3 separate regions of the Homo sapiens genome follow, and regions 1 and 3 are each linked to region 2. The links come from fine-mapping of genetic effects on plasma protein levels. A gene starts in region 2. Each other region holds a variant in brackets. All regions are shown on one strand. Distances are between the middles of the regions.

Region 1 (10,841 bases), 140 kb after region 2:
AATTTAAAGGCATTTAGCAAAGCCGTATGAAATTATCTGCCTTATGTACCTCGAATGTGAGGTAATGAACTTGTCATTAGTCGTGTTTTAGTTTAGTGTTCTCGCTGGAATTTGCAAAAGATTAAAATTCTGCACATTTCATTAAGTCTTCCACATGGGCTCAAAATACCATCCCGCAGGCTCGACCTGACTTGCCACGTTGCTTTGACACCATCTCTGATTCCAGTGAACAAAACTAAGTAAGTGTGACTTACAGCCGCCCTACCAAACATTGAAGGTGTGAGCCTGCACTGTTGTTTTGTAATGACAATGACAAGAGTATAATGACAAGAGTATAATGACATCCTAGTCCATGAAGACATGTTTTCTCTTTTCCCTCCCTCTATGTATACTTACTTACTCTTAAGGAAATAATATAATTTCTATTTCTGCTTAAATCTGCCATCTCTACTTAGAATTATTTTCCCTTGAAAAATTAAATTGCATTATCCATCAGCCAAATGGAAAATCTGATTACTAAATGCCTACTTCTAGACATTATGAATTACCTGTAATATCACATTTCTTGGGCACTTCTCAGAATGCTATGATTTTACATAAAAGCATAAATTACAGAATGAGAAGAGTAAAGCTTAGTGCATATTATGCAGGTTCGCAGAGTGATATGTGGCCTACGACTGTCATTGTAATCAAAATTGATTTTTGATCATTTATAAAACTAAAACAACTAATTGAAAGCAAATTTACTTTAACTGATGAAATTCAAGATGAAGTGACAGTAGTCATGAATCACAGTTCTGTAGATCTGCTAAAATGCCAATGAACTGTTATTAATGGTGAAAGTGTTTAATATATTAATGGGAATCCAAGTAAGGAAAATAAAACACATATTTTGCCCTTACCTTAAGTCATGTTGACATCATACATAAATCAGGTAGAATTTGAAGATGTTTCATCCAGCATTCATCATGAAGCAACAGAGTCAATAGCGGGCAGTTACAGTCTGTAGGCAATGCTTTCTGGTGTGGATTATGCAAGAAACTTACAGTCATTTGGCTTCCTTTATTCCCCTTTGCATGTAAACTACCAGGTGGTAGGTAGACCCATTCTTGGCTGCCAGTATTTTTACCACTTGGATAGATTCTGCTCTCTGAGGTCTTTAAGACAAACACAGCACATGTACATTGTGATATAGGAGAAAGAACATCAGACAGAGGCAGAGAACTGGGCTTGTCAAAATTAAGGGTGACCTAGAGCCTTAGTGTCCTTATATGTAAGATGAGAAGCTTGGATTAAAATTCATTGCTCCTTACACTTGATTTTTATGCAGCAGAACTTTCTTCAAAAGAGATCACTCCTGGAATCCCAATATACAAAATGGATAAAAGTAGGATTGTTCTGAAGTAAAGAAGTAAAATCCAGAGCCCCACTTATTTGAGTCATCTCCTACCTTTTAGATGGTTATTAACATTGTTTCTAGTTCAGAAATTCTGATGTTTTATATTAATTTAAACTAAAGTTAAATTAGGACTAGAAGAGCCATTTCGTGTGAAAATAGACATAGTCTGAGTGATTTAGGCAAACCCATAGTGACAGATTTAGTGGCCTGATACACTGGCTTGGAAAGATCTGTTCCAAGTCAGTCTCAATACACAAGGCTCGGTGAACACATGGCGAGCAGTCTTGGTGGTGGTCAAGAACATGGAATTTGCTGTGAGAGAGAGCTTGGTTAGGGTCTGGGCTCTTCCATCTGTTAACTGCAAACTTGAGCAAGTTATTCAATCTCCCTAATATTCAGTTTTCTCATTCATAAAATGGATTGATAATGGTACCTTCTATGTACAGTTACTGTGGGTATTAAATGAGGTAATAAGCCTGTAAAACTCCTGGCATGATGACATTGGCCTACATTAATTGCTCACAGAGTGAGAACTTATTATAAACACAGGCATTTTTGTTGAATGACTGACTGATTGAATGAATGAATATAGAACTAGCTTTCTATTTGTGATGTATGGAATATCTCTATTTCATTTAATTTCATTTTGAATATTAAAATTCAGGCTTGCTTTTAAACCAAAGTATTTGCTGATGCAAAGAATGAAATTCTGACTATGATACAGTTACATAACTTTTGAAGAAATAAGAAAAATGCTAACACAGCATGAACAACTTTGATTTAGAGAACAGAGTCTCTGTTAAAATCCATGGGACTTGTCAACTTCATATTTTTGTTTATGAGCATAAAACACTCTTTAGTGCATGTCGGAATCATTTGATGCTTGCTGAATCACAGGTTGCTGGAACCCATCCCCAGATTCTGATTCAGTCTGAGATGAGGTCTGGGAATTTGCATTTTTAACTTGTTGTCTGGTGATGCTGATGCTAGTGGTCTGAGAATACACTTTGAGGATCACTTTTTCACAGTAAAAGTCACAGTCATTAAGCAAGTTAACTCAATGAGAAATGATAATGAAAAGGCATGTACCTAAATAGATAAAGGACCTATACCAGCTATGAATTTGAGTTCAGCAATAATTGTAAAATTTGTAATTCTTTTCAGGTATTTGGTTTTTAAAAAACTCCCTATGTATGCTTTTATCTTATGTTTTATATGGTGTCCCTCTTTTCCTCTCTTTCTCTCTAATCCAGTTTTTAATGTGAACATGTTTAATGTGAAAATGTTGTTCAAAGCAGAAGCGAACCTTTTGTGTAACCTTGGCGGTATTAAGTTTGTTTGTAAGCTATTTCTGCCCTGTTAGCTTCTGTACTGAAACACGTTTTCTTGCTTTTGTTGCAGTATGGAAGAGAAGAGAGCGACTGGACAATTGTGCTATCCTGAATGGAAAATAGAGGATACAATGGAAAATAGAGGATACCAACTGTATGCTACTGGGACAGACTGTTGCATTTGAATTGTGATAGATTTCTTTGGCTACCTGTGCATAATGTAGTTTGTAGTATCAATGTGTTACAAGAGTGATTGTTTCTTCATGCCAGAGAAAATGAATTGCAATCATCAAATGGTGTTTCATAACTTGGTAGTAGTAACTTACCTTACCTTACCTAGAAAAACATTAATGTAAGCCATATAACATGGGATTTTCCTCAATGATTTTAGTGCCTCCTTTTGTACTTCACTCAGATACTAAATAGTAGTTTATTCTTTAATATAAGTTACATTCTGCTCCTCAAACAAATGCAATTTTTTGTGTGTGTTTGAAAGCTAATTTGAGAAAATTTCATAGGTTACATTTCCTGCAGCCTATCTTTATCCACAGAAAGTGTTTTCTTTTTTTTAAATCAAGACTTTTAAAACTGGATTTCCTCCCATCACTGTTTTTTGAAGGTCCTCCAAGTCCGTGTTAAGGTAAATATCTGTTTTCTTCCTGATGTCACAGCCTGAGCATACTCTGTGCATTAGGAAGACCTGAGTGCATTTCCCACCATTGTCCTTTCCACATTATGTTGTAGCTGGCTGGCTGTCAGGCGACTACAAGACTGAGGGTCTTGTGCCTTATAGATCTTTGTATCCCCCATGGCTGACATATAGTAGGTACTCAGTAAATGGTTTTATAATGAATCAGTGAACATTTTGCTTCTATAGAAGTGTACCTTCTTTGTTTCTATATTATGAAACCTCTTTATTAGAATTTGTGATTGATTCTGACAGTGTATAGATTTACCTTATATTGTCTTTATTTTCCATGAGCTACTAAGTCATTAGAGATACTCTGAAGCATAGTTAGTTTAGGAAATCACTTCATATTGATTGTATTAGAATTATCTTGGAATTGAAGATATATCCCTAGAGCAGGGGACCCCAACCCCCAGGCCATGGGCCACACAGCAGGAAGAGGTGAGTGGTGGGCCATTGAGGAGCTTCATCTGTATTTATGGCTACTTCCCATCACTCGAATTACCACCTGAACTCCACCTCTTGTCAGCTCAGTGGCAGCATTAGATTCTCATAGGAGCACAAATCCTATTGTGAACTCTGCATGCAAGGGATCTAGGCTATGCGCTCCTTATGAGAATCTAATGCTTGATGACCTGAGGTGTAACAGTTTCATCCTGAAACCACCCTTCACCCTGCAGTCTGTGGAAAAATTGTCTTCCACAAAACTGGTCCCTGGTGCCAAAAATGTTGGGGACCACTGCTCTAGAGAGAGGTCATGATATCATACCAACCAAATGGAAATGACAAATGTTTTATGTCAAGTGTTAATTGCAGAAATAAATCTTTTTTTTTTTTTTTTGGTAGAAAACAAAGAGGCATACTCTGATTTTTATACTCTGTTTTTGCAGGTGCTCTTTTCTTTGAATGGAGATTTGATGAGCAAGTGGTTAGGATGCAGGGAGAGCTACTATGGGTGATATTTTCCTTGTTTAGGAGCTGTGAGTTAAAATTGTATCCTTTGTGGTTTATCTAAGGAAAGTCAAATCTTGACAGAAAACATTTTTCCTTGGAAGGTCAACTCTCAGACATTGTATTTTGGTTTCCCTCAGTCCTCATAACTTCCTTCTTGCTGAACATATTTTATTCTCTTTTCAGAGAAGGAAAATAAAAAGGATTCTAAAAGTTTGATGCATTGGAAAAATTTCCTTGAGGCATTTAGCAACACATAGAAAATGGGCTTTGATTCTTTTCCAAAACTTTTAGCCATAGGGTCTTTTATAGACAGGGATAGTAAAATGAAAATTGAGAAATATAAGATGAAAAGGAATGATAAAAATATCTTTTAGGGGGCTTTTAATTGGTGATCTGAAATCTTGGGAGAAGCTGTTCTTTTCAGGCCTGAGGTGCTCTTGACTGTCGCCTGCGCACTGTGTACCCCGAGCAACATTCTAAGGGTGTGCTTTCGCCTTGGCTAACTCCTTTGACCTCATTCTTCATATAGTAGTCTAGGAAAAAGTTGCAGGTAATTTAAACTGTCTAGTGGTACATAGTAACTAAATTTCTATTCCTATGAGAAATGAGAATTATTTATTTGCCATCAACACATTTTATACTTTGCATCTCCAAATTTATTGTGGCGAGACTTGTCCATTGTGAAAGTTAGAGAACATTATGTTTGTATCATTTCTTTCATAAAACCTCAAGAGCATTTTTAAGCCCTTTTCATCAGACCCAGTGAAAACTAAGGATAGATGTTTAAAAACTGGAGGTCTCCTGATAAGGAGAACACAATCCACCATTGTCATTTAAGTAATAAGACAGGAAATTGACCTTGACGCTTTCTTGTTAAATAGATTTAACAGGAACATCTGCACATCTTTTTTCCTTGTGCACTATTTGTTTAATTGCAGTGGATTAATACAGCAAGAGTGCCACATTATAACTAGGCAATTATCCATTCTTCAAGACTTAGTTATTGTCACACTAATTGATCGTTTAAGGCATAAGATGGTCTAGCATTAGGAACATGTGAAGCTAATCTGCTCAAAAAGATCAACAAATTAATATTGTTGCTGATATTTGCATAATTGGCTGCAATTATTTAATGTTTAATTGGGTTGATCAAATGAGATTCAGCAATTCACAAGTGCATTAATATAAACAGAACTGGTGGCACTTAAAATGATAATGATTAACTTATATTGCATGTTCTCTTCCTTTCACTTTTTTCAGTTTCTACATTTCAGACCGAGCTTGTCAGCTTTTTTGAAAACACATCAGTAGAAACCAAGATTTTAAAATGAAGTGTCAAGACAAAGGCAAAACCTGAGCAGTTCCTAAAAAGATTTGCTGTTAGAAATTTTCTTTGTGGCAGTCATTTATTAAGGATTCAACTCGTGATACACCAAAAGAAGAGTTGACTTCAGAGATGTGTTCCATGCTCTCTAGCACAGGAATGAATAAATTTATAACACCTGCTTTAGCCTTTGTTTTCAAAAGCACAAAGGAAAAGTGAAAGGGAAAGAGAAACAAGTGACTGAGAAGTCTTGTTAAGGAATCAGGTTTTTTCTACCTGGTAAACATTCTCTATTCTTTTCTCAAAAGATTGCTGTAAGAAAAAATGTAAGACAAAAAAAAAAAAAAAAAACAAACAGAGGCAGAGGCAGGCAGTAGCAAGAAAGCAGAGCGTAACATCAGCTAGATGGTAACATGCAATGTCAGCTCTCTTGAAGACATGGGAAACCTAAGTTACACCTTGGGTTAAAATTCTTCACCATATTAGTTTTGTTGCTTCATAAAATTTACCTAAGCAAGTGGTCTTGCTTGCCTCAAATCCAAGCAGTCTTGAACACTTGGAGGCAATTAATGAGTATATCTTAGTCAAAAGAATTGTTGGAGCTTTTTATTAAAGCTACAGTTTCAGTTCTGCTTTTGGGGAATTGT[G/T]CTATGAAAGCAGCTGCCAAAATAAGCTCATTTATTTTCTTCAATCCCACTCAGTGCTCAGTCACTATATTCTGTTTCCTTTTTTTTTTTCAAGTTGCATATTTGGTTTCCCCTTATGATTGGGAAAGATGAATTTTCAGCAGAAAACATTGTTTGTTCACTTTCAAAGAGTGATAGTTTCTAAAACATTTAGAGCAATAAATATTCATCAGAGGTACCAAGTAAGCCGGCAGAAGAGTTAAGGGTTAGAGAAATCCCTTATTTCATGTCTTGACTCTAAAATTATCAAAGTACTTTTCCTTGTAATGTGGATTTCTTCTTATGCGGATATGCAAAAACTTCAGTTATACGTAGTAATGCTAGCAGGTAATTTTAGTAGACATTTTATAACAACTGTCACTTTGTTTCGCCACATGTAGAGTTTGTTCAGCTATTTTCCAGATATCTCCCCACAAAAGGAGGCAAAGGGTACCAGCTTTTCAATGAGCATTACCTATTACTTGGCAAAGATGATGAAGACTCTATTAATAGTTCATTTGATAAATGTTGACATAACCAACAATAGAGATTAGGAAGTTAGTTTTAAGAAATCAATGGCATATAGACATTACCCTCATGGAGTTTGTATTCTACTACTTGAACTGATTGTAGCTATAAAAGCATAGTTAGATAGCTGAATAGTTAGATCATAAGCAAAGAAGGCCAGAACACATCTCTTATCAAGAAATCAATGAATAGTTTATCTCATTTTTAAAGCAACTTTATCCTTCTTTAATTCCTTCCTTTCTTCTAGTGCAAAACTACTTAATAAGGTTGGTGTTTAGGTTAGTGTTCACACCATTCCTCATCTGGTGTGAATTACCTTCTCTTTCTTTACTATTTACTACCAACCTAGTACATGTGTTGACTGAATTCTTTTCAAACAATGTTGAGTTATCATGGTGCACCTAATAAATTAACACCACAGATTACAGCATCCTTGCTGATTTTCTCAGCAAAGCCAGATTAGATGGAAATAAACAAAGAAAATGATCCTAGAGTGAATTTTTCTAGAAAATATCTATTATGAACCATGCTGTTTAAAGTATTAGCTTGAAGGTGATGGATCCAGCTATTCAGAAAATAACTTTCATATAACCATGATTTTGCACAGTATGAGGTCTTAAATGTGTGGAAAGAGATAAATTTTTTATCATTACCACAAACCCCTTTTAAAGATTCAAAGGTGGAAGAAAGTGATTTATTTTTTCTCTTCAGCATACATATATAAAAGACTTGTCAGATGTTTAATTTGGGGAGGTTGATAATGAAACATATCAACAGAGTATAGTAGTTATAGTAGTGTTTGTGGGTAAATAATTTCCTGGGGTCAGACATATATAAACATATTTGCTTCAAAATGATAAAGGCATGAAATCAGTCTTAAAAATTGAAATGGGGGTGATGGGGGAGAAAAAGAAGAACAAATTTGAAGTGCCCTTTCAAATCTGCTGGATACAAGTATTGAAGTTTTAAGTCATCTTATTCTGTCTGAAAGTGTATTTTTCATTCTACAATAGACCCAATCAACAAGACGTATAACTTGAGTTGCATGATGTTCAGTTTATGTAATCTACTGTTGGGATGGTAAGAATTGATGTAGGCTGTGGTGTAAGAATGAATTAAAATATAGTTTCACTGGCTTTTCTCTACATATCCACTATCACAATGGCTAGGTTTCCTGTTGCTCACTATTGGATTCTGGAGAAAAATTTAATGAAAGATGATATCAGAGGAAGAATAAGTGGAGGTAGAGAAGAAAGGAATGATAGAGGAGGGGAAAAAAACAAAACATATTTTTGTGTTATCCAAAGGAGCTTTTTCCTTATTCTGTCAAGCATTGAGATCTTCTTCAGCTTTCAATGTAGTTGCTAAATACAAATAATGCTACTAGGTAGTGACTAAATATAGCAAACACTTCATCAGATATTAGAATTAGGTCACACTATTGAGGTTATAATCTGAAGGTTGTGTTACATAGAAACCACTTTAGATTATTATCAACTTGGACTAGGCTTTATTTTATAATAGCATAGTAAGTAATATCTATTGTGTCATTTCTTCAACCATTTTATTCTAAGATCCATGAAGCTTCTTGAGGCCAAATAAAATAATAAGTTTAGACAAGAAGTAGATTGTGACTTTTTTCCCTTAGAGATACTATTTACTATCTCCTATCCTGATAGGTGGAAGGTTTACTGAATTGGAAATTGGTTGACTATTAGTTTTTAACTAAAATGTGCAATAACACATTGCAGTTTCCTCAAACTAGTTTCCTATGATCATTAAACTCATTCTCAGGGTTAAGAAAGGAATGTAAATTTCTGCCTCAATTTGTACTTCATCAATAAGTTTTTGAAGAGTGCAGATTTTTAGTCAGGTCTTAAAAATAAACTCACAAATCTGGATGCATTTCTAAATTCTGCAAATGTTTCCTGGGGTGACTTAACAAGGAATAATCCCACAATATACCTAGCTACCTAATACATGGAGCTGGGGCTCAACCCACTGTTTTTAAGGATTTGCGCTTACTTGTGGCTGAGGAAAAATAAGTAGTTCGAGGAAGTAGTTTTTAAATGTGAGCTTATAGATAGAAACAGAATATCAACTTAATTATGAAATTGTTAGAACCTGTTCTCTTGTATCTGAATCTGATTGCAATTACTATTGTACTGATAGACTCCAGCCATTGCAAGTCTCAGATATCTTAGCTGTGTAGTGATTCTTGAAATTCTTTTTAAGAAAAATTGAGTAGAAAGAAATAAACCCTTTGTAAATGAGGCTTGGCTTTTGTGAAAGATCATCCGCAGGCTATGTTAAAAGGATTTTAGCTCACTAAAAGTGTAATAATGGAAATGTGGAAAATATCGTAGGTAAAGGAAACTACCTCATGCTCTGAAGGTTTTGTAGAAGCACAATTAAACATCTAAAATGGCTTTGTTACACCAGAGCCATCTGGTGTGAAGAACTCTATATTTGTATGTTGAGAGGGCATGGAATAATTGTATTTTGCTGGCAATAGACACATTCTTTATTATTTGCAGATTCCTCATCAAATCTGTAATTATGCACAGTTTCTGTTATCAATAAAACAAAAGAATCCTGTTTGTGTGGTTTCATGAAATCAGCATTGTTGAATGCATGAAGTAATAATGCTAAATTAACATTTTTATGATGTCTCAAGGTTTCTGGTCAAGGGAAGTAAATGTAGGATAGTATTTTTACACCAAAATGACACAGAGAGAATTGAGCACACCAGAAAGACCAGAAACCACACCACTGGATAGAGATTCAATATGTTTCTTTTTCAAACATTTGGACAAGAAAAAAATGGGCATTTAAAAATTCTTCCTTCCCCTGGTTATGGATTTATCTGTAGTAAAACTTAGCTTTGTCGTTTGAGATTTGCACAGAATGGGGGGAGTAGATTACCTCTTCCCATTCATTGTCATAATGGATCTACATCACTGATAAACACCATACTTCTATATGTGGTTAACTAGCTTTAGAATAAAAGACACTTTAAAAAGTAAAAGGCCTAGAGATCTTCAATGAAGTGTCCCTTTTAGCCAAACCAGGCCTTGCAGAAATTGTCCTCAAAAGCACCAAGGGAGAACAAAGCCAAGTGCAGAATTACCCAAGGGTCACACATTTTGTATTCATTTTCTTATAATTTGCCCAAATGATTTGAAGTACAGCAAAACCTGAAGTTTTGCAAAGAGTTACTGTAAACTGAACTTAAAAATGTCAGAGTGCTCGGTGACCCACTTCTCCAGACCCTGTCAACCTGTGAAAATATTGGCCTTTATTCAGATCTCTCAAGAAGTTACGCGCAGAGTTTGGAAGGTCTAGGCAAAGGTTATTAGTCAAGTGTTCTTACAGTGTCAACGCTCAATTCCCACAAGCGTGAGAAAGAGAGACCTGTCATTCCTGAGGGTGATGACATACATTTACTGGAGCTTATATAATTTATCAGATAAGACAGCAGTTTCCTTCAGGGTAGAAAGTGTGTTTTCTACATTGATTTAGTACAAAACAAAAAGAAAAGGGGATATTTCAAATTTTATAATTATTTTTCTGCTAAGCTGATTCAGTGTGATTTAAGCATATTTTTCAAATCATGAATCTGATTCCATATACATATGTGCCTTATATTGTGATAATTTATTTTTAAGTGAAATATGCTATCATAGCCTGACTTTATGTATAGTGGTGACAACTTGCAGGATCGCATTTCTGTAACCAAACGGCCGACAGCTGAGGTGTAGATGCTTCCTATGGTCTGTAGAATAATCACTGGGCTTGTTCTCTAGCTATGTCTGTATGCAATCGCGACAGTGTTGATCAAAACCCATGATCATTCTCTCCAAAGGTCTTTGTCACTAAGCCACTAGGGATTCTGAAAAGTTCGTGAGCTGAAACAAATAAATTGAGTTGGAAGATTCATGTTGACTGTTTG
Region 2 (10,738 bases):
GAATTATGAGTAGAGTGCTCTTGAAGCAGGTGACACTGGAGTATGTGTGTTATTGAAGCCAAGAAATGCTTCTGGTGATAGTAATAAAATATTCCACCAGAAGTGGCAAAGCAGTAAAGATTAATTATGTCATATAACAAAACTTTTGAAGGTAGGCAACTCCAGGTTTGGCAAAGTGGCTCAGTGATGTCCCCAACAGTCCAGTCTCTTTCTTTTTTCTTTGCCATCCTCAATATTTGGTTTTTGGTCTTGGGCTTGCCACTCATGGTTGCAGGATGGTTGGTGGCAGCATTCTGAAACATTTATCTGTATACAACATTTAAAACAAGAAGAGAATGGGGTGAGAAACAAAGAATAGAATTGTGATTGCCAGGGCTGGGGGAAGGGGAAAATGTTGCTAATCAATGGCAACAGATATAAAATTTCTATTATGCAAGATGAGTAAGTTCTAGAGATCTGCTGTATAACATTGTACGTATAAATAACAGTACTGAATTGTGCACTTAAAAATCTGTTAAGAGGGGCCAGGCACGGTGGTTCACACCTATAATCCCAGCATTTAGCGAGCCTGAGGTGGGAGGGTCACTTTAGCCCAGGAGTTCAAGACAAGCCTGGGCAACAAAGTAAGACCCTGTCTCCACAAAAAATACAAAAGTTAGCTGAGTGTGGGGGTGCACGCCTTTAGTCCTAGCTACTTGGGAAGCTGGGGCTGAAGGATCACTTGATCCCAGGAGTTCAAGGCTGCAGTGAGCCATGCCACGACACTGCACTCCACCCTGGGTGACAGAGCAAGACCTTGTCTAAAGAAAAAACAAAACAAAACAAAACAAAAACCTCGGGCGCGGTGGCTCACGCCTGTAATCCCAGTAATCCCAGCACTTTGGGAAGCTGAGGCTGGTGGATCACCTGAGGTTGGGAGTTCAAGACCAGCCTGGCCAACATGGAGAAACCCTGTCTCTACTAAAAAATACAAAATTAGCTGGGGATGGTGGCGCATGCCTGTAATTCCAGCTACTTGGGAGGCTGAGGCAGGAGAATCGCTTGAATCCGGGAGGCGGAGGTTGCGGTGAGCCAAGATCACGCCATTGCAGCCTGGGCAAAAAGAGCAAAACTCTGTCTCAAAAGAAAAAAAAACATCTGTTAAGAGGATAGAGCTGTTAAGCATACTTACTAAAATAAAATTAAGAAGAAGGCAGAAAGCAGAAAAAGAGAGGGAGGAGGAAGTGGAGGTGGAGAAGAGGGAGTAGGGGGAGGAAAGGAAGAAGGAAAAGAAGGAGGCACCAGTAAGCTCTCCTTGCCTGATTTATGTTTTCCTAATCAAAAGGGAAATCCTTAAAAGCTCCTCGGGTGACTTTCTCTTAAGTCTCATTGATCCGAACTTGATTATTTGATCTTCTCTAGCTCAAGAGAGTATGGGAAAGTAAATATATTGCAAAGTACAATGAGATTGTCATCACTGCCTTAGATTAACTATTAATCCCCCAGGACTAGGCATATTCTGTATCCTCACCATAGAAAAAAGAACCAGGGCTCTATTAGAAGAAAAAAGAAGAACAATGGATTTTTGTTATTTTCATTTTTATTGTTTGAGACAGGGTCTCTCTGTGTCTCCTGGGCTGGAGTGCAGTGGTACAATCACGTCTCACTCAACCTCCCAGGCTCAAGTGCTTCTCACACTTCAGTCCCCCGAATAGCTAGGACTACAGGCATGCATCACCACGCCTGGCTAATTTTTGTATTTTTTGTAGAGATGGGGTTTCGCCATGTTGGCCAGGCTGGTCTCAAACTCCTGGGCTCAAGCCATCCACCTGCTTTGGCCCCACAAAGTGCTGGGATTATAGGTGTGAGCCACCACGCCTGGGTAAAAAATGGCCCGTTGCTAGATAAGTAAGAGTATTAGCCAAGGAGTAGATGGATTTCCTTATGGAGAGGATTTAAAATGAATTAGAAAAAAAAAATAGCCGGGCGCGGTGGCTCATGCCTGTAATCCCAGCACTTTGGGAGGCTGACGTGGGTGGATCACCTGAGGTCAGGAAGTCGAGACTAGTCTGGCCAACATGGTGAAACCCCATCTCTACTAAAAATACAAAATTAGCTGGGCGTGGTGGCAGGCGCCTGTAATCCCAGCTCCCCGGGGCGGGGGCGGAGGGGGCGGGGCGTGGCGAGGCAGGAGAATGGCTTGAAACTGGGAGGCGGAGTTTGCAGTGAGCGGAGATCGCGCCGTCGCACTCCAGCCTGGGGGACAAGAGCGAGACTACGCCTCAAAAAAAAAAAGAAAAAAAATTAAGGACATGGGATGAAACCCTAAGGGAGAACACTATTTGAAGAGATGTTAAGAGGTAAAAGAGATTGTGAAGGATTGAGAAGGCAGACTCTTGAGAGGTAGTTAGTAGGCTAACACCATGGTCATTACAAAGAAAATGGTTCTGTGTTTTCACAGAATTTATCCAAGAGAAGAGTAGCTAAGACTTATACACCAGTAATTATAGAAACAGTATTGTATTAGTCTGTTCTCATGCTGCTAAGAAAGACATGCCCAAGACTGGGTAATTTTATAAAAGAATGAGATTTAATGGACTCACAGTTTCACATGGCTGGGGAGGCCTCACAATAATGGCGGAAGACGAGGAGCAAGTCATATCTTAACATGGATGGCAGCAGGCAAAGAGAGAGTGAGAACCAAGCGAAGGGGATTTTTCCTTATAAAACCATCAGATCTCATGAGACTTACTCACTGCCACAAGAACAGTATGGGGGAAACCACCCCCATGATTCAATTATCTCCCACTGGGTTTCTCCCACAACATGTGGCAATTATGGGAGCTACAACTCAAGATGAGATTTGGGTAGGGATGCAGCCAAACCATATCAAGTACAAAAGTTGGTGTGGGTCTGTAAGCAGGGTTTCTCAACTTTGGCACTATTGACATTTAGGACCAGATAACTTTTTTTTTTTTTTCGACACAGAGTCTCATTCTGTCACCCAGGCTGGAGTGCAAGGGCATGATCTTGGCTCACTGCAACCTCCACCTCCTGGGTTCAAGCAATTCTTCTGCCTCAGCCTCCCAAGTAGGTGGGATTACAGATGCCTGCCACCACGCCCAGCTAATTTTTGTATTTTTAGTAGGGACGGGGTTTCACCATGTTGGTCAGGCTCGTCTCGAACTCCTGACCTCAGGTGATCCTCCCGCCTCGGCCTCCCAAAATGTTGGAATTACAGGTGTGAGCCACCACGCCTGGCTCAGATAACTCTTTATTGTGGGAGCTCGTCCTGTGCATTGTAGGATGCCTGGCAGCATCCCTGGCCTCTACCCATTAGGCGCCAGTAGCAAATCTCCCCCACTTCCCTAGGTATTATAATAAAAATGTCTTCAGACATTGCCAAATCTCCCCAGGGGGACAAAATCACTCCTAATTGGGAATCACTGGTTTATAACAAGGAGTGCTTCAGGAAAGGCTGCAAATGGGGCAATAGTAATTAAAACGGATCTCCAAGACTGGATATCATTTAGCCAAGCAAAGTCGGAGGAAAAGAAATTCCAAGGAGCATTTGTGCAGAAACAATGATGGAAGATTTCAGGTGTGCTTAGGCACACAACATGTACTCATGTCAGGCTCTCACCAGAGCATCTGAGTGCAAGTTGCATGATTTTGAACAGGAGAAAAAAATCTAATCAGAACGGAGGACTAGGGAGATTACTAGCCATCTGTGTGTTGGGTGGATTGGGGCAGGGAGAGATTAAAGGCAGGGATAACAGTAATCCAGAGGGAAAGTACAATGAATGACCAAACTAGGGCAGTGAGAGTGGGAACTGAGGGGGATGACTAAGAGATTTTGTGGAGATACAATTGGGACGGCTTAGTGATTACGGGATGGGGGAGGCTCATATCTTTCTCTCTTGCTTTAAGTACTATCTATAAAGATAGGAGCTATATGAAAGTTTGGAGGCTGGATAATTGGAAGCACATTAATGACATCAGCAGAGAGAGGGAAGCAGGTTAAAAAGGGAAGATTATGTGCTTGGATTTGGATTAATTGGGCTTGTTAGAATAGAGATGAACCAGAGATCTAGTATAGTTTTAAAAGTTATCAGACTACAGGTCATAGTAGAGACACTAGAGGACAGAGTATAAAGAGGAGATTCAAGATCAGATACAGGTGGGATGAACACCTTGCCTATATTTAGAGGGCATGAGGTGATCATAAATAAGGTGTAAGGACCTGCCAGAGAGGCTGGAGGAGATTCAGAATCCTATCGTGGAAGGGAGGAGTTTCAAGGAGAAGGAGGATAGCTTTGTGCGTCAGGGTGGAAAGTACCCTGAGAGGTTCTAGAGAACTAGCAGAAAGAAGACTTTACAATATCCTTTCAAAATAGATAGGAATTAATTTATTTTTATTTTTATTTTTTTGAGATGGAGTCTTGCTCTGTCGCCCAGGCTGGAGTGCAGTGGTGCGATCTCGGCTCACTGCAAGCTCCACCTCCCGGGTTCAAGCCATTCTCCTGCCTCAGCCTCCCGGTAGCTGGGACTACAGGTGCCTGCCACCAAGCCTGGCTAATTTTTTGTATTTTTAGTACAGACTGGGTTTCACCGTGTTAGCCAGGATGGTCTCGATCTCCTGACCTCGTGATCCGCCCACCTCGGCCTCCCAAAGTGCTGGGATTACAGGCATAAGCCACCGCGCCCAACCCAGTAAATCTAATTTTACATGGGGATTAGGTACTAGAGTGTGTACAACAAGGATAAAAATAAATCCAGTGAGTCAAAATTGTCATGGGAAATTTCCCAAAAAGTACAGTATAAATGATTTTCGAGTATTGAACTTGGTGTGTGTCTGTGTGTGTATGCATGTGTGTGTGCACATGTATGTAATGGGCAATGAATGCAAGTATTATAGGAAATATAAAAACAGTACAATTTTGAAGTATTTTTTACTATGAGAAATAGAGAAAGAGAATGACATTGTTTTCTGAGTGTGTAGAGTAGAATTTTAGAGTAGATTTTCCTCTTTTAAGACAGAGTATCATTGCCTTATGTAAACTCTCCTATTCAAATTCCAGGAACTGTTAATAACTCAAGGCAGAGAATATTTGTGAGTTTCTGCTTTCCTAGAGAAAATTTAGTAAGATACAGGGAAGACATTCTGCAGGTAGTTGGCACATATTTTTCATAATGATGGCAATAAAAGCCTTTGTTAATAACAGTGAGGACAAAATGAAGCTGGACTGTCTGGCGCTCTGGAGTCAACCTCAAAATTAGTGTCTATTAGAAATCTTAGAAATGCTGTCTCTTCTTCAGTAAAAGACACTGCCCATAGATGGGTATATGGTATATATCCAGTTTGGATCCAGTTTTCCTTAAATATCTTTTACTGTGACTTGTTTGAAGTACAGTGCCACTGTCAGAGTAACAACCTTCGTTGATCATGAGCCTCATCATTTGGGAAAAGCATGTGTGTTGTCTGGGAGAGAAGCTTTGGGAGTTTACAGTTGACAATGAGGGAGAACTGTGGGGCCCTTCTATCAACACTAAAGGGAAATGGGAGGAGAGACATAGCTAGATTGTTCTTATATTCTTTTTTTTTCTTTTTTTTTTTTTTTTTTTGGAGATGATGTCTCACTCTGTCACCCAGGCTGGAGTGCAGTGAAGTATGAAGTGATCACAGCTCACTGCAGCCTGGATCTCCTGGGCTCCAGTGATCCTTCCACCTCAGCCTTGGGAGTAGCTTAGACTGCAGGCACATACCACCACAAACAGCTAATTTTTGCATTTTTTGTAAAGACTGGCTTTTGCTATGTTGCCCAGGCTGGTCTTGAACTCCTGCTTTGACGTCCCAAAGTGCTGGGATTATAGGCGTGAACGCCCGGCCCTCATATTCTTCTGTGGATGTTAATTCCCTAACTTTCTCACTTCCCTTCAAGCTCTTTTTTTTTTTTTTTTTTTAAATATATACTACCTTCTCTCTTCCTTTGTTGCTAACATCAAAAGAATCCTTAAGTAGGGGTAACAGCAACAGGGTTGGAGGTGAAACTGTACCTTCAAGCCAAAAACAGCCTGAAGGCTGAAAGACCAGACTGCTGGTCCTGGATGAAATCCATGACGCAGAGTGAGAATTTCTGTTCCTGTTTGCCTGCCCCTCCCCTATTCTGAGCCGATAAAAAGCCCCAGGACTCAGCCTCATGGAGGAGACTTTCCTGCCTTCGGGTAGGGGGACCACCCCCGCTTCCCTCTCTGCTGAAAGCTGTTTCATCCCTCAGTAAAACTCCCCGCCTTGCTCACTCTTCAATTGTCAGCACATCTTCATTTTTCTTGGGCATGGGGCAAGAACTCAGGAACCAATGTGCAAGGCAAACTTGTCTCAGGCGGGCAAATTGCGTGGGGTGCCTCCTGCAGCAGGTAGTATGCCCCGAGCTAGGCCTCCGGCATTGCCGGCTAGAGGTCCTTGACTGGCAAAGGGACTGAGAAAAATCCTGCATTGAGGGAGAGGGGGGCGAGGGGCGGTCGTTGGATCTAGGAGTAATTGCCAGGCTTGCTCTAGAACTTATTAATGCATTTATATCTATGACCCCATCACTCTCTATCCCCTTATTACTCTTTCTCATAAAATTTACCACATGGTACCTGTTTTTTTTTTTTTTTTTTTTTTTTTGAGACTGAGTCTTGCTCTATTGCCCAGGCTGGAATGCAGTGGCATGATCTTGGCTCACAGCAACCTCTCTGCCTCCCAGGTTCAAGCGATTCTTGTGACTCAGCCTTGTGAGTAGCTGGGATTACAGGCACCCCGCAACCACGCCCGGCTAATTTTTAGTAGAGACGGGGTTTCACCATGTTGGCCAGGCTGGTCTCGAACTCCCGACCTCAAGTGATCTGTCTGCCTCAGCCTCCCAAAGTGCTGAGATTACAGGTGTGAGCCACCATGCCGGGCCATAGAGTAACATCTTTATTGAGATATAATTCACATAACATACAATTCACCTATTTAAAGGGTATAATTCAGTGGTTTTTAGTGTGTTCACAGGGTTGTGTAACCATTACCACAATCTAATTTGAGAACATTTTAATCAATTCAAAAAGAAATCCAACGCCCATGAACATTCACTCTGCATTCCACCCTGTCCCCAGATTGAAAACAACTATGTGTTTTCTGTCTCTATGGATTTTCCTGTTCTGCACATTTCAGATAAGTGGAATCATATAATATGTAGTCATTTGTGAGACGCTTCTTTCACTTTGCATAGTTTTCAAGGTTCATCCATGTGACTGCATGTAATCAGTACTTCATTTCTTTTTATTGCAGAATATAATAATATTCCATTGTATGGATGATACCATGTTTTATTTAGCCATTCCTCAGTTGATAAACATTTTGCTACCTGATTTAAAGCTTACTTTCTGTTTCTCACACTAGTATATGAGCTTAATGAGGGTAAGAACATTTTTGTTGTTTCCCACTCAGTCCCTAGCATTTTGCACATTGCCTGTCTCATGTCAGTGTCAGGTTCAAATCTATCTAGCTGTGCTTTCACTGACGGGGGCCAGGAGGTTTCACAAGGACTCAATGGCTGATTAAATGCTTACAGATACAGATTTCTCAGGGCAGAACTTCTGCAAGCATTTTGGCTGTGGTCAGTTACTTTCAGGTTTTCATTACTTTTTGGTTTTCACAGCATCCGCAAGTGCCCATAGCCATTATCTCAGCTGCCTCTCTCTTTACTCTCTTGCCAATGGTGCCAGGCCACAGCAGGTGTTATCTTATCACCTCAGTCCACCATACATATGCTTATCAATTTGAGGGGTCAGCAATTTCACTGGAGGCTGAAACCCTTGTCATAAATGGCTCCATTTTGAGACATTTCAGATTACAAACCACTGTTATATACCAGCCTAGCATGTAGAAATCACTCAGTACATTTATTGAACACATAATTTAACCATTCATTCACCTGACCAACAGTCATTAAGCACTGACACATTTGTTTTCAACACTCCCTCTCTTCCACGGCAGGCCACTTGGTATGGGAGATAAATATGACAAAGGATCTGCCCTTACGAATCTCATAATCCACTGAAGTGACAACTGTGCAAACAAATAATTAAAGTAAAATTAAGAAGCTGGGCACAGTCTCACATCTGTAATCCCAGCAATTTGGGAGGCGGAGGCGAGGGGATTGCTGAGGCCAGGAGTTCAAGACCAGCTTGGCCAATTTAGTGAGACCCCATCTCCATTAAAAAATGATAAAATAAAATAATTGATTTTGAGAAAGGATGTGGACAAAGTGCAGCACATAGACCAAGGGCCCAGTTCTGTTTGAGGGCATTGGAAGCAACTTCCACAGCAAAGACTTGGGTTGAAATTTACAAAAATAGGAGTTTGCCAGCTTGACAGAGAGGCAGCGGAGGTCAACCAGCAGCACACTTAAGCAGTCATGGAGGCTGACCTAGGCGCTGGACATGGAAAAGTAGCAATCCTGGAGCTTTGTATAGATGTGGGGAGGGAACTTACAGGGGACCAACTAGGCTACTGGGCAATTTCACATTATAAAGAATTTTATATGCTCAAATTAAAGGATTAAAAATTTTCCCCCATGTACATAATAAATTGGCAAAAATGGTTATATTTGAGGGTGACTAAGGAACTCTGGGAAAGAGATCGGCAAACCAGGCACATGTTCTTGACTACTGCAAAAGTACATTTAAAGTAGCCGCGGGGGATACATGTATACTTTTGGGCAGGATTGTGCCGTGGTCCTCTCAGCATGCAGCAAAGTTACTTTGGGGACAGTAGGGAGGTGGGCAGGAGCCAGTGATGACGGAATGGCAATCACATTTGACCTCTGATCTGTTTATTTCCTCCTCCTTGACGTCTCCATATAAATGTTACACGGGCATCCCCACACTCGGATACGCACCCACAGTGGCTGATTCGGGGGTAACCGTGTCATTTGCTTGCAACACTGGCACCTCTGCCCTGCACCCCGGGAGTGAGCAGTGAGTGAGGCTCGGGTCTGGGCGCTGGCTCCGAATCTTCGGGCTGGGAGAGACTCCACCATCTGGGGGCGGCCTGGGGGAGCAGCCTTAGTGTCTTCCTGCTGATGCAATCCGCTAGGTCGCGAGTCTCCGCCGCGAGAGGGCCGGTCTGCAATCCAGCCCGCCACGTGTACTCGCCGCCGCCTCGGGCACTGCCCCAGGTCTTGCTGCAGCCGGGACCGCGCTCTGCAGCCGCAGACCCGGTCCACACGGCCAGGGGCTACGACCCTTGGGATCTGCCCTCCGCTCAGCTCGAGCTTCCCTCGTGGCCGACGGAACAATGAAGGTAACTACTTATGGTTTTGTCCGTGTTTTACAAAAATGTGTGCGTGAATCGAACCGGCGATTTCTCCAAGAAACATAGTTGGCAGGGAGGGGAGGAAGGCGAGACAACCATGGCTTATATCCCCCGCAAACGTCTCAGTATCTTCTTTATCAATCGTAGTTTGCGGGGACCGTGCATTCTGTTCAGATTTCGGTTTAACCTCCACTCGCAGGACGTGCCTTCTCGGACTTTTTCACATTCGCTTTTGGGAACGGAGGTGAAAGTCTGCTACAGCTCCCTCCCCTGCTTGTGAAGTTTGGAAAGGAAGTGAGGGCTTCTCTCAGTTTCTCCTATGCACAGGAGGTGGGGAATTTTGGAGAGGAGGTCTGGGGATGTCCCGGGCTGTAAATGCGCTTTCCTGCAGCGTGTGTTCGTGATGCAGGAGGGAGCGGCTGGAAGAGTTGACCCGGGTGGAGAGGGGAGGGAGAACGATCTTTTCACTGTTAAAAGCAGAAGGCCCCTCTTATTTTGTTTCTTGTGGAAATTAAAGCTTCTAGGAGTTACAAATGATAGACGCCTAAGGGCATTCATTTGTTAAACCAGTGAGCACCCTAATGGCTCTGATCTTGCTAATCAAGGATAATTAGCCTAGCTGCCTATTATTTCTGACTATTTAGGTGTAGGGATGTACACCGTTGAGTGTTTTGTTTTCCTAGTTTCACACACTGGAAAACTGCAATCGCATATAAAACCCGAAGAGCAACTTTTTCCAAGGAAAGTGAAGGATGGGCAGATATTCTTGCCATCTAACATTTTGGAATTGAGATGACCATAATGCAATCTGAACTTCTGGTAGGAATAAAGCCTCGTTTCAGAGTTTCTAAGGAGGGAGATGAAGCGTGGTTCTCAACTGCTCTTATCTACAACCCATCCCAGACCATAGTTTCACTTAGAAGAAATAATATGTAAATAGCGCCTTTGTTGCCAAACAAAAACTTTCACTACAATTAAACAGTAACCGAGTGGAAACTATGCGTTTTTGTATTCAACAGAGATCACACAACTTTTCTTCTATAGTTAGAGGTTCTATTTCTGGCTTCCTCATGCTTGTTTCATTTCAGATGAAAAACACACTTTAGTTGATTATAGCTTTAGTAAGTAAAAGGAGAAAACTAAGAATGAACAGTCTTGCTTTTCCAGCTTTTTCCTGTCCATGTGCAGTTGTGGTTAATTACGCGTTTTTGTAGGTCCAAAAACCCCTGTCCCTTCCACAAGATACTTTTATAACATGGGGAACTAGGTAAGATATCTACAAGTAGTCTCTTTTCTGTTTCCTGATATTTCCTAAGATTAAGAAAGAAATGATTGTATTCTAGGTATGATCGAAGAAGTATGGAAGGTTCCATTAAGTTAGTTTTATCACAATATTTCAAACATCTTTCCACT
Region 3 (10,841 bases), 120 kb after region 2:
TGGTGGCGCGTACCTGTAATCCCAGCTACTCAGGAGGCTGAGGCAGGAGAATCACTTGACCCTGGGAGGCAGAGGGTGCAGTGAGCTGAGATGGTGCCACTGCACTCCAGCCTGGGTAACCTAAAAAAAAAAAAAAAAAAAAAAAATTAGACTTTCCAAGGGCAGCGTGGAAGCAGTGACCAGCCTGAGTAGGCACGCACACTTCTTGGGGATAGCCTCCTCCATAGCATTCTTAGAAGGTTTGGTAATGACCAGTTTTTCTGAGTAAGACCCTATCTACATTATTCTAATTAGTAACCACCTTTCATCTGCTAAGGTAAATTTTCACTTCAGAATATTCCTCTTAAGACCATGCAATAACTCTTACTGTTTGTTGGTGGAAAACCATCTCATTATTTTACTGGTTAAGGGTAAACTGAAGATGATTAGATAACTTTCCTTCCTTCCCTCCCCCCTTCCTCCCTTCCTTCTCTTTCTTCCTTCCTTTCTCCCTCCCTCCCTCCCTCTCTCTTTCTTTCCTTCTCTCTTTCTTTTCTTTTCTTTTTTCTTTCTTTCTTTCTTTTTTCTTTCTTCCTTCCTTCGTTCCTTCCTCCCTCCCTCCCTCTCTCTCTTTCTTTCTTTCTCTTTTCTTTCTTTCTTTCTTTCTTTCTTTCTTTCTTTCTTTCTTTCTTTCTCTCTTTCTTTTCTTTCTTTCTTTCTTTCTCTTTCTCTTTCCTTCCTTCCTTCCTTTCTTTCTCTCTCTCTCCTTCCTTCCTTCCTTCTTTCCTTCCTTCCTTCTTTCCTTCCTTCCTTCTTTCTTCTTTTTTTAAATAAGGGTCTACCTGAAGTGTGAACTGATTTGGGAAATTTGATCATGCAGAACAGTAAAATTTTCTTTATGTTTGTTGCTAGCAAAATTGTGATGGTTTTTTAAAAAAATGGCTATTGATAATAAGGCATGCCTAATGTAGTGAAAGTTTGAAAATGTCCCAATTTCTGATTGACAGAAGAAGAACTGGCAACTCCTCCACTAGATGGCATCATTCTTCCAGGAGTGACAAGGCGGTGCATTCTGGACCTGGCACATCAGTGGGTGGGTGCCTTTGATATGAACAACTTTTGTAAGCCTGAAATAAAAAATAATCAAAATAAGCCCAGCCTAGTGTTGAAATAATATCCTGTGGTTCCAACCAATGTTATCTAATCTTTAAATTCTAACGTGAATGAAAAGTATTCTTCTAGAAGGGCTTTCTTGGCAAGACTATTAAAATAAGTATTGTTGATAGCAAGGGCAGAGAGAAACCAGTTTAGCAAGATGTCATAGTGGAGAAGTATTCTAGTAGTAGTCTCAGTCTACCAGGTATCTCCCACCAACTTTTGTCTGGTTCATACCTGATGTGCTTCCATCCAGACATTCCTTAACTTCCCAAGTCTGTGTTGCTTCCAAATGGCAATGATACTTCTTCCTTTCCTTTATTTATACCAGTGTAACCATGCTTGCCGTAGAAATGAAATAATTTCACTGACATATAAATGTTTACTAATATAACATTATTGGTTTGACTGCCTTCTTTTTCTCTCTGTCCTACCCCCATCCTCCAAAATTCATATACATGCCTATTTTAAAATCAGAACATGCAAGCAAATGTAAAGTTGTTTTCAGTAGACTTTCAAATTCGTGTGACACAGGCAAGCATATTAAACAATTTGGTGGACCGGGTGCAGTGGTTCATGCCTATAATTCTAGCATTTTGGGAGGCCAAGGCAGGAGGATCACTTAAGCCCAGGAATTCGAGACCAGCCTGGGCAACATAGTGAGACCCCGAATCTACAAAAAAATCAAAAACATTAGCTGAACATGGTGGTACATGCCTGTAGTCCCAGCTACTTGGAGGGGCTGAGGTGGGAGGATGGCATAAGATCTGGAGGTCAAGGTCGCAGTGAGCTATGATCAAGCCACTGCACTACAGCCTGAATACAGGGTGAGACCATGTCTCTAAAAGTAAATTAAATAAATAAATAAATAAATAAATAAATAAATAAATAAATAAAATAAAATTTAAAAAGGTTTGGTTTTGGAAATGACGTAATGTATTCAAGACAAATTATTGAATGAATTGGGTGTCTGGTAAAGGTTCTTGGATGGAACTTTTGACCCAGGTGTTAAAATGGTCTCCAAAGAACATGAAAAGGCTTTGAGCTTACTGTGGTCAAAGAGTACTAGTAGTAATAGGACAAATGTTTAGAAACACACACGTTATCTAGGAGCATACCAGCATGGTTTCTCTGGAAAAGACTTTCAAAATAGATGAAATGTGCTATAAATAATTCTACAAAACCCTGAAGTAGACAAGACCCAACTGCTACATGCTGGCTGGCGCATTGGGCATGACATTTACAAACCGTTGGTATAATTTTCAAACAGCTTGCCCTGTCCTAAATATGTTTGCAATTGGAAAGATATTTTTGAAGCTCAGTAATTTTTGTTTTATTAAAGAAAAATATCAACCAAGTACAGAAGGTTCGACGACAAGTTGCAAGTGGAAATACTTTCCCACACTAATGATTTGCTAGCATGAAAAATAGGTTATTATGGAGGAAATTTTTTCTTGACTTCATAGCTGTAATTTATTTTAAAAGCTATTTTAAAACATGAGACGTGAAATGCCAAGAGGCATGTAGGGGGTCACCACTATTTGCCAGATAGGGGAAATTGTCCAAAGATAAGTAAGGGTGAGCAGAGCAAAAACAATTCTGCTTATTTACAAAAGAGTTTTCTTTTCTTTTCTTTTTCAGGACACAGAACTCAGCTTGTTTTCAATTAATTTGCCTGATTTTCTGCAGTTCATTTACTTTTGAACAACATAATTGCAATTGTAGACTGAGAGAAATTGAAACTTTCAAAGAGCCATATTTCTATTGCAGATATATTTTCCTGCTCTTCCAAATCTACTTACAGCATGAGTTCTTCTTTTAAATATTCAAATATTTTGAATATTGCCAAGAGCTTTGATTTCCATTTTTATCTCTTGTGGGTTTATAAATTAAGAAAAAATACTCATCTTATTTTTTTAAACCTCTCTATTTTTATTGCCCTTTATTCAAATAACTTGTTGACAAACTTTGAACTTGAACCACTGAGGTAAAAGAACAAGAATTAAACAGATAGTTTAAACACATAGCTTAAAAGGATCTTTTTCCCATTTCCTATCCTTGAGCAAAGAATATATTCAAACACTTTGGCAGAAGTCAATGAGGTTATACCACTAATTCCATGATGAAAATCAACTGAATGTGATACTGAAAGAGAAGGAAGAGAATTGTCACTGTAAAGTCAACTGTTAGTCATATTAGGAAAAAAAATACATACAATACAATTTCTCAAATAAAGTCCAAATATACATTCAACGTTTAAAAATAATGAGTATTTCAGATATTTGAACTCAGTCTGTTCTTTATTCCATAAAAGATATAGGTAAGCCGTGCACAGTGGCTCACAACTATAATCCCAGCACTTTGGCACTTTGGGAGGCTGAGGTGGGAGGATCACATGAGCCCAGCCTGGGCAACATAGGGAGACCCCTATCTTTACAAAATAAAATATAAAATATAAAACCTAGTTGGGCATGGCAGCATACACCTGTAGTCCCAGGTGCTCAGGAGACTGAGACAGGAGGATCACTTGGGCCTGGGAGGTCGAGGCTGCAATGAGCCAAGATTATGCCACTGCATTCCAGCCTGGGTGACAGGGCAAGACCCTGTCTTAAAAAAAAAAAAAAAAGAAAGAGACAAACGTAGAAAGAGTACCAAATTTGGAGCCAATCAGATCAGACCTGGGTTCAAATTGAGTTTCTGTCACTTACTTCCTTTGTGGCCCTGGAGATGCCCTTCAACCTCCTTGAACCTTAGTTTCCTCATCTGTAAAATGGGGATGATAGTACTCACCCTTAAAATTACAGAACTTGGCATAATAGCGGGTGCTTGATAAATGGTAGCTATAATTATTAATATTATATAATACATTGTTCTCCTTTATGGTAAAGTAGGTTTTAAGACACTGATTTTTTTGTTTTGTTTTGTTTTTGGAGACAGAGTCTCACTCCGTCACCCAGGCTGGACTGCAGTGACGTGATCTTGGTTCACTGCAACCTCTGCCTCCTGAGTTCAAGCGATTCTCCTGCCTCAGCCTCCTGAGTAGCTGGGATTACAGGCACCCGCCACCATGCCTGGCTAATTTTTGTATTTTTAGTAGAGACAGGGTTTTACCAGGTTGGCCAGGCTGGTCTCAAACTCCTGACCTCAAGTAATCTGCCTGCCTCAGCCTCCCCAAATGCAGAGATTACAGGCATGAGCCACCGTGCCCGGCCTAAGACACTGTTAACACGGAGCATGCATCAAGCAGCATTTGGGATGCATCAATTTTGTGAGACTTTATACAAGTTAACAAATAAGAAGGCAAAAAAGAAGGCATATGTTAAAGTATACCATGTGTCTTGTGGTGATAATCTTATATTTTATATTCTGATAATCTCATATATAAATCTGTGACCTTGAAGTAGGTTACTTAACACCTCGATGTGTTCACCAGTAAGATGGTGTGCCACTTCCAGCTTTCCCTTAAAGGATGATTGTGACCTTGTCTAAGTGCAATCAGAATGTTAAGCAGAACAGTAAGTATTGCAATTGTTTTGCATGCCTTTTCCTTTAAAATATACTTGTTATTTTTTATATTCCATGCAGGGTGAATTTAAGGTGTCAGAGAGATACCTCACCATGGATGACTTGACAACAGCCCTG[G/A]AGGGGAACAGAGTGAGAGAGATGTTTGGCTCTGGTACAGCCTGTGTTGTTTGCCCAGTTTCTGATATACTGTACAAAGGCGAGGTACGACAAGTATTTCCTCATTTCCTATCATTTCCAATCACATTAAATTACATTTAATTTAAGTGTATGAATAAAATTGTATCTGGACCCAGACCCAAGATGCAAAAGTTTTGTCGTTGTTGTTGTTTTTCTTTATTTTAAAGAGATGGAGTCTCGCTGTGTTGCCCAGGCTGGAGTGCAGTGGCTATTCACTGGTGTGATCATAGCTCACTGCAGCCTCAAACTCCTGGGCTCACGCAATCCTTCTGCTTCAGCCTCCTGAGTTGCTGGGATTACAGGAGTGCGCCACCGCACCATGCTAGGTCTTTTTTGTTGTTGTTTTTGTTTTTTAACTTGGCACTACAAAAAAAATAACTGGGACAGTTTATCCAGATGAAACTGTATTAGCATATATCTACTATGTTTCCAGTGATTTCATGTAAGCTTAAACATGGTGGGAAGTTAGTTTTGTCCTTGGACACGTGTAAGATCTGTCTTACCTACATGTCGGGATTGGAGCTATGCCGACAGTCTTCTACTCTTCTCTCTTCCTTCCTACCAGCTCACTAGGGAAGGCTCTATAGGTAGTTACATTTCAGTTTCTGGTTAACCAAAAGTACTTCCAAACCACTGGATTAGGAATGGCAAATAGTTATGGAAAATGCATTCGAGTGGTCAATCCCTTGATTTTTTTTTACTATTAATGCTGTTATCATTAATAGTAAGTAGACCACTTTACAAGAATTATTCATTGGCAAACCTGGTGCATTTACTAAAATCTTACAAAAGGAATTTGAGGATTTGGTTGGAAGAAATGTTCTCCTCTTAGTAAATTAGTCTGATTTTATATGTGCCATACTTTTGTTTTCTTGTCAAATTGTTTTGCTTTTCACTTTATAACAAAGCTCCAATACTTATGATTAACATTGGCATCTAACTTTATAACTTAAAGGCATGTAAGTATTAGTCTTATAATGTGAACTGGCTTAAGTTATTCATATTATAGCAGATCCTTGAACAACACAGGGATTAGGGGTGTCAACCCCCATGCAGTTGAAAAATCCACATACAACTTTTTTTGTTTGTTTGTTTTTTTAAACGGGGTCTTTCTCTGTCACCTGTACTGGAGTGCAGGGGCACAATCTCGGCTCACTGCAACCTCCGCCTCCCAAGCTCAAGCGATCCTCTCACCTCAGTCTCCCAAGTAGCTGGGACCACAGGTGTGCACCACCACACCCAGCTAATTTTAGTATTTTTTGTAGAGACGGGGTTTCAAGATGTTTCACAGGCTGGTCTCAAACTCTTGAGTTCAAGTGATTCACCTGCCTTGACCTCCCAAAGTGCTGGTATTACAGGCGTGAGTCACCATGCCCGGCCCACATATAACTTTTGACTTCCCAAAAACTTAACTACTAGTAGCCTGCTGTTCACCGGAAGCCTTATCAACAACAAAAACAGTCGATTGGCACATATTTTGTATGTTATGTATGTTATATATGTATTCTTACAATAAAGTAAGTTACGAAAATCATGGGGAAGGGAAAATATATTTACTATTCATTACATGGAAGTGGATCATCATAAAGGTCTTCATCCTCATTGTCCATCATGTTGAGTAGGCTGAGGAGGAGGAGGAGGAGGAGGGATTGGTCTTGCTGTTTTAGGAGTGGCAGAGGCAGAAGAAAGTCCACGTATAAGTGAACTTGTGTAGTTCAAACCCGTGTTGTTCAAGTGTCAACCGTAAATGCAAACTCCACTGGTTTTCAAATTTTACTTTAGAGTTATTTTCCCTCAGCTGATTGGAGTTTTGCTCAACTCCTCTGACTTTAATAATGGCTGCTTCATTTGTTGAGGTTTTAGAACTTGCTTTTAAGGGATTGCTCTTGACATAATTGCATCAACAGATAGACTGTTTCATGGGAGAAGAATTGTTCTGTTTCATGTCAATACTTACATTGATAAGAATGCATCAAGGTAATGTGATCCATCCACTGAAGTTGTCATTAGGCCAGATTTTTTTTAAGTTGAATTATTATTTCACTTCTAGAAATAAGAAGTTTATAAAGTTTAGCATAATTTTAATGATCCAGGCTTAGGAAGCATTTACAGCCAAAAAGTAAGTATATATAATTATCATATTATACTAAAGGGTATAATATGAAAAGTGTTTGAGAGCACAGACTATCTCCTAAAATCAAACTATCAAAACCTGCAAGCCAGCAAGGCATGAGTAGGCATGACTCAGATACAAATTAGAAGCATGAAATCTCTTTCAGCCATGCATTTAATCATGCTATCCAATATTGTGGAGGTAGTGGCCCCTGGAAGTTTACCTTGGGCCAGAGATAGGTATAGAAGCCCCTTTTATGAAGTCATAGACTTGCTTTAATTTATGCTCCCAGAATGACTTGCATTAAACTGTGGCAAAATATCTTTGAGTTCTCATATTAGCCAGAGGGTTAATATGTAGAAGACAATCATTCATCCTTACAGATTCTCAGAATCTTGGAAGAGGTAGGGTTCTTTAAGTTTAGCCACTATTTTAGGTAACTGTAGCTCCTCCTTGGTTCTTCAAATGATCCTGAAGGCTGGTATACAAACCAGTTATGCCCTAAAATTAATTGGTAGGTAGGCAATGTATAACCTGTCATTGGCTAGTTTTTATTCAAATTTTGGATATGAAAGTCTTTGGCATAAGGTGCTAGCACTCAGAGTCAGTAGGTTTTAGTGCTATTCCTTAACTTCAGTGGAATTGCCTTAGTATAGCAGAATTGCTTGAGTGTCTTATCTGTTATCACCATATACATGAGTACCCTCAAATTATCTCATTTCCCTTTCTTTTGTAGACAATACACATTCCAACTATGGAGAATGGTCCTAAGCTGGCAAGCCGCATCTTGAGCAAATTAACTGATATCCAGGTAAAGCTTTTCTTTTCTTTTCTTTTCTTTCCTTTTCTTTTCTTTTTTTTATGTCACCTTATTTCTGTCAGAGCTTACAACTAAATTATATTTCAATGAAGAGGATTAAATAATACAATTTGAGATCAATAAGTTAAATTTAAGGAAGATATTCCCAACACAATGTGTGGGCATGAGCAAAGCAGAAATGGGAAAGAAGATGTATGTTTTAAAAAAAGAAAGAAAATATTGTTCAGGACTCCACATTACTTAACATTAAAAAATAGATGTAATTTTTGGTAACATTTAAAAATCTCATTAAGAAGGATAACATAACTTTTGTTAAAAAAAGGAAGAAAAAATTTGAAAGTAGAAGCAACTTCAGGAAGAAAATTACAGTGCATGTGATTCCAACACTGAGATATAATCACTGTTAATTTTTTATGTCTTTTTATTTTTGAGCTGGAGTTTCACTCTTGTTGCCCAGGCTGGAGTACGATGGCACGATCTTGGCTCACTGCAACCTCTGCCTCCCGGGTTCAAGCAATTTTCCTACCTCAGCCTCCCGAGTAGCTGGGATTATAGGTGTGCGCCACCATGCCCAGCTAATTTTTGTGTTTTTAGTAGAGATGGGATTTCACCATGTTGGCCAGGCTGGTCTTGAACTCCTGACCTAAGGTAATCCACCTGCCTTGGCCTCCTAAATTGTTGGGATTACAGGCATGAACCACTGTGCCCTGCCATTTTTTGATGTCTTAACCTTCAATATTTTGTAAGCATTTATATACTTTATTTATTTATTTATTTATTTATTTATTTATTTACTTATTTATTTTTGAGACTAAGTCTCGCTGTGTCACCCAGGCTGGAGAACAGTGGCATGATCTCAGCTCACTACAACCTCCACCTCCTGGGTTCAAGCGATTCTTCTGCCTCAGCCTCCCGAGTAGCTGGGATTACAGGTCTCATGCCACCGTTCCCGGCTAATTTTTGTATTTTTAGTAGAGATGAGGTTTTGCCCTGTTGGCCAGGCTGGTCTTGAACTCTTGACCTCAGGTGATCCACCCGCCTTGGCTTCCCAAAGTGCTGGGATTACAGCCGTGAGCCACCATGCCCAGCCAGTATACTTTTAGATAGTTATTTTTTCCTAACAAAATGGGATCATATTGTACATAATTTTGTTACATGTTTTTTCACTGAATAAATGCTTTGCTTTTTTATATCAATAAGTAGTTTTCTCCAACACCATTTATAAAGTTTAATTGAATTCCATTATATTGATGTACCATAATTTTTTTAAAAAATTATATTATTGAACATTTATGTTGTTGGCAATTTTTTTTTCACTAGTATGGACAGTACATCCTCGATTACTTCCTAAGGATAAATCTGGGATCAAAGAGTATACACGTCTATTTTTTCATACTGCTAACTTTGTTTTGCCTATTTTTTTTCTGAGCAATAATCTACAGTAATGCCTCATCAGGCAGTTAAGCAGGCATGCTAAATACCAGATAACACTGGGCTACTCAGAAAAGAGATTATCCTGTAATTTGCAAGCATTTCACAAGTTAGAAGACTTTGTTGAAGCCAGTTACTATCCTTGTCAATTAGTAAAAATATCCAAGAGGGCCTGAGACTTACATTGAAAAGTAAAATAAAGTTTGATCATTTGAGTGATGTCGGATGGCATTAAGTCATGAAACTAAGTGAAACTTAAAGGTGGCTGAGAATGCAACAGGCCTCCAGAGAGCAATGGAGGTCCTTGGGTAGTGATAAAAATGGCATTTCTGGCTGGGTGCAGTGGCTCACACCTATAATCCCAACACTATGGGAGGCCAAGACAGGAGGATCGCTTGAGGCCAGGTGTTCAAGACTAGCCTAGGCAACATAGTGAGAACCTTCCTCTAAAAAAAGGGAAATAAAATAAAAATAAAAGTTTAAAAGAGAGTTTAAAAGGCAGTTTTAAAAGAGACTTACTCAGCAAGTTTTCTGCCAAATTTACAGTATTAAAAAGAAAGAAAGTGTGTTTTTGTTTCTGTTTGTTTTTTTGAGACAGAGTCTTACTCTGTTGCTCAGGCTGGGGTGCAGTGGTGCAATCTCAGCTCACTGCAACCCCTGCCTCCTGGGTTCAAGTGATTCTTGTGCCTCAGCCTCCCACACAGCAGGGATTATGGGCATGCACCATCATGCCTGGCTAATTTTTGTATTTTTAGTAGAGTCGAGGTTTCGCCATGTTGGCCAGGCTGGTCTCAAACTCCTAGCCTCAAGTGATTTGCCCACCTTAGCCTCCCAAAGTGCTGAGATTACAGGCATGAGCCACCGCACCCTGGCCTTGATTGTGGTTTTTTAATCAATGAGCTGCCATACTTCTGCTCTCCAGCAAAGGTTTTCTATGAGAATTTTCTGTAAGCTAAGTAAAGGAATATCTTAATATTGGAAGAAATAAAATTTAGTCAGAGTTGTTTTCTACCTTTGTACACAGCAACACTTACAAGTAATTTGAAGAGTAGCTAATAAAAATTTCTGCATGGATGGCTTAGGCATTTTAATTTTTTTAAGGTTGCCTGAGTAAATCTGAAAATAATAAATTATTACAGTTTTGCTCAAATAAAGAACACAAATAGAACAAAAAATACATAACTGGCTAGATTACATGAAAGCCTTTTTCCAAAACAGAGGTTTAGAGGCCAGGGCAAATAGGCAGGAAAAATAAATAAAGGGCATCCAAATTGGAAAAGAAGAAGTTAAATTAGCTTTCTTAGCAGATGACATTATCTTACACCTAGAAAAACCTAAAGACTCCCTCAAAAAACCTGTAGAACTGATAAATGAATTCAGTAAAGTTGCAGGATATAAAATCAACATATAAAAATCAGTAGAATTTATATATGCTAACAGTGAACAATCTGAAAAAGAAATCAAGAAAGCAATCCCATTTATAATAGCCACAAAAAGTATAAAATACCTAGGAATCAATCTAACCAAAGACATGAGAGATCTATACAAGGAAAAGTATAAAACTATGATTTAAAAAATTGAAGAAAACACACAAAGGTGGAAAGATATTCCATATTCATGGATTGGAAGAATTAATTTTGT

Which allele goes with the higher level. Alleles are on the strand shown, and positions count from the first base shown. The strength of an association depends on the size of the effect and on how common the allele is. Not every link is listed here.
As copies of G replace A in region 3, the plasma level of the protein whose gene starts at base 9,139 in region 2 goes down (moderate association).

Evidence for each region. PIP is the chance, under the fine-mapping model, that this variant and not a neighbour inherited with it causes the effect. The UK Biobank Pharma Proteomics Project read protein levels with antibody pairs (Olink). The fine-mapping took linkage between variants from a reference panel, not from the people measured, so its PIPs are less certain.
Region 1: its variant is fine-mapped to the plasma level of the BCAT1 protein (UK Biobank, PIP above 0.99).
Region 3: its variant is fine-mapped to the plasma level of the BCAT1 protein (UK Biobank, PIP above 0.99). The variant lies in the coding sequence of BCAT1. If it changes the protein, the assay may bind it differently, which can mimic a change of level.

Annotation. Positions count from the first base shown.
Region 1 is chr12:24,810,009-24,820,849 of GRCh38, reverse strand. It overlaps BCAT1 (branched chain amino acid transaminase 1), which reads left to right. Exons shown (of 11, transcript NM_005504.7): 11 at 2,801-10,826. The coding sequence ends at 2,842. BCAT1-AS1 (BCAT1 antisense RNA 1) reads right to left here and starts at 992. Exons shown (of 4, transcript XR_007063245.1): 1 at 903-992. The variant G/T (reference allele first, on the strand shown) is at 6,344.
Region 2 is chr12:24,947,502-24,958,239 of GRCh38, reverse strand. It overlaps BCAT1 (branched chain amino acid transaminase 1), which reads left to right and starts at 9,139. Exons shown (of 11, transcript NM_005504.7): 1 at 9,139-9,313. The coding sequence starts at 9,308. It overlaps BCAT1-DT (BCAT1 divergent transcript), which reads right to left and starts at 9,077. Exons shown (of 3, transcript NR_199054.1): 1 at 8,910-9,077. RefSeq lists enhancers at 2,546-2,785, 5,886-5,955, 6,336-6,405, 8,686-8,775, 8,896-9,245.
Region 3 is chr12:24,826,742-24,837,582 of GRCh38, reverse strand. BCAT1 (branched chain amino acid transaminase 1) reads left to right here. Exons shown (of 11, transcript NM_005504.7): 8 at 987-1,072; 9 at 4,720-4,860; 10 at 7,686-7,760. It overlaps BCAT1-AS1 (BCAT1 antisense RNA 1), which reads right to left. Exons shown (of 4, transcript XR_007063245.1): 3 at 6,794-6,882; 4 at 1,028-1,106. Among named protein-coding and RNA genes, the nearest start is that of BCAT1-AS1, 12 kb to the right of the region's middle. The variant G/A (reference allele first, on the strand shown) is at 4,777.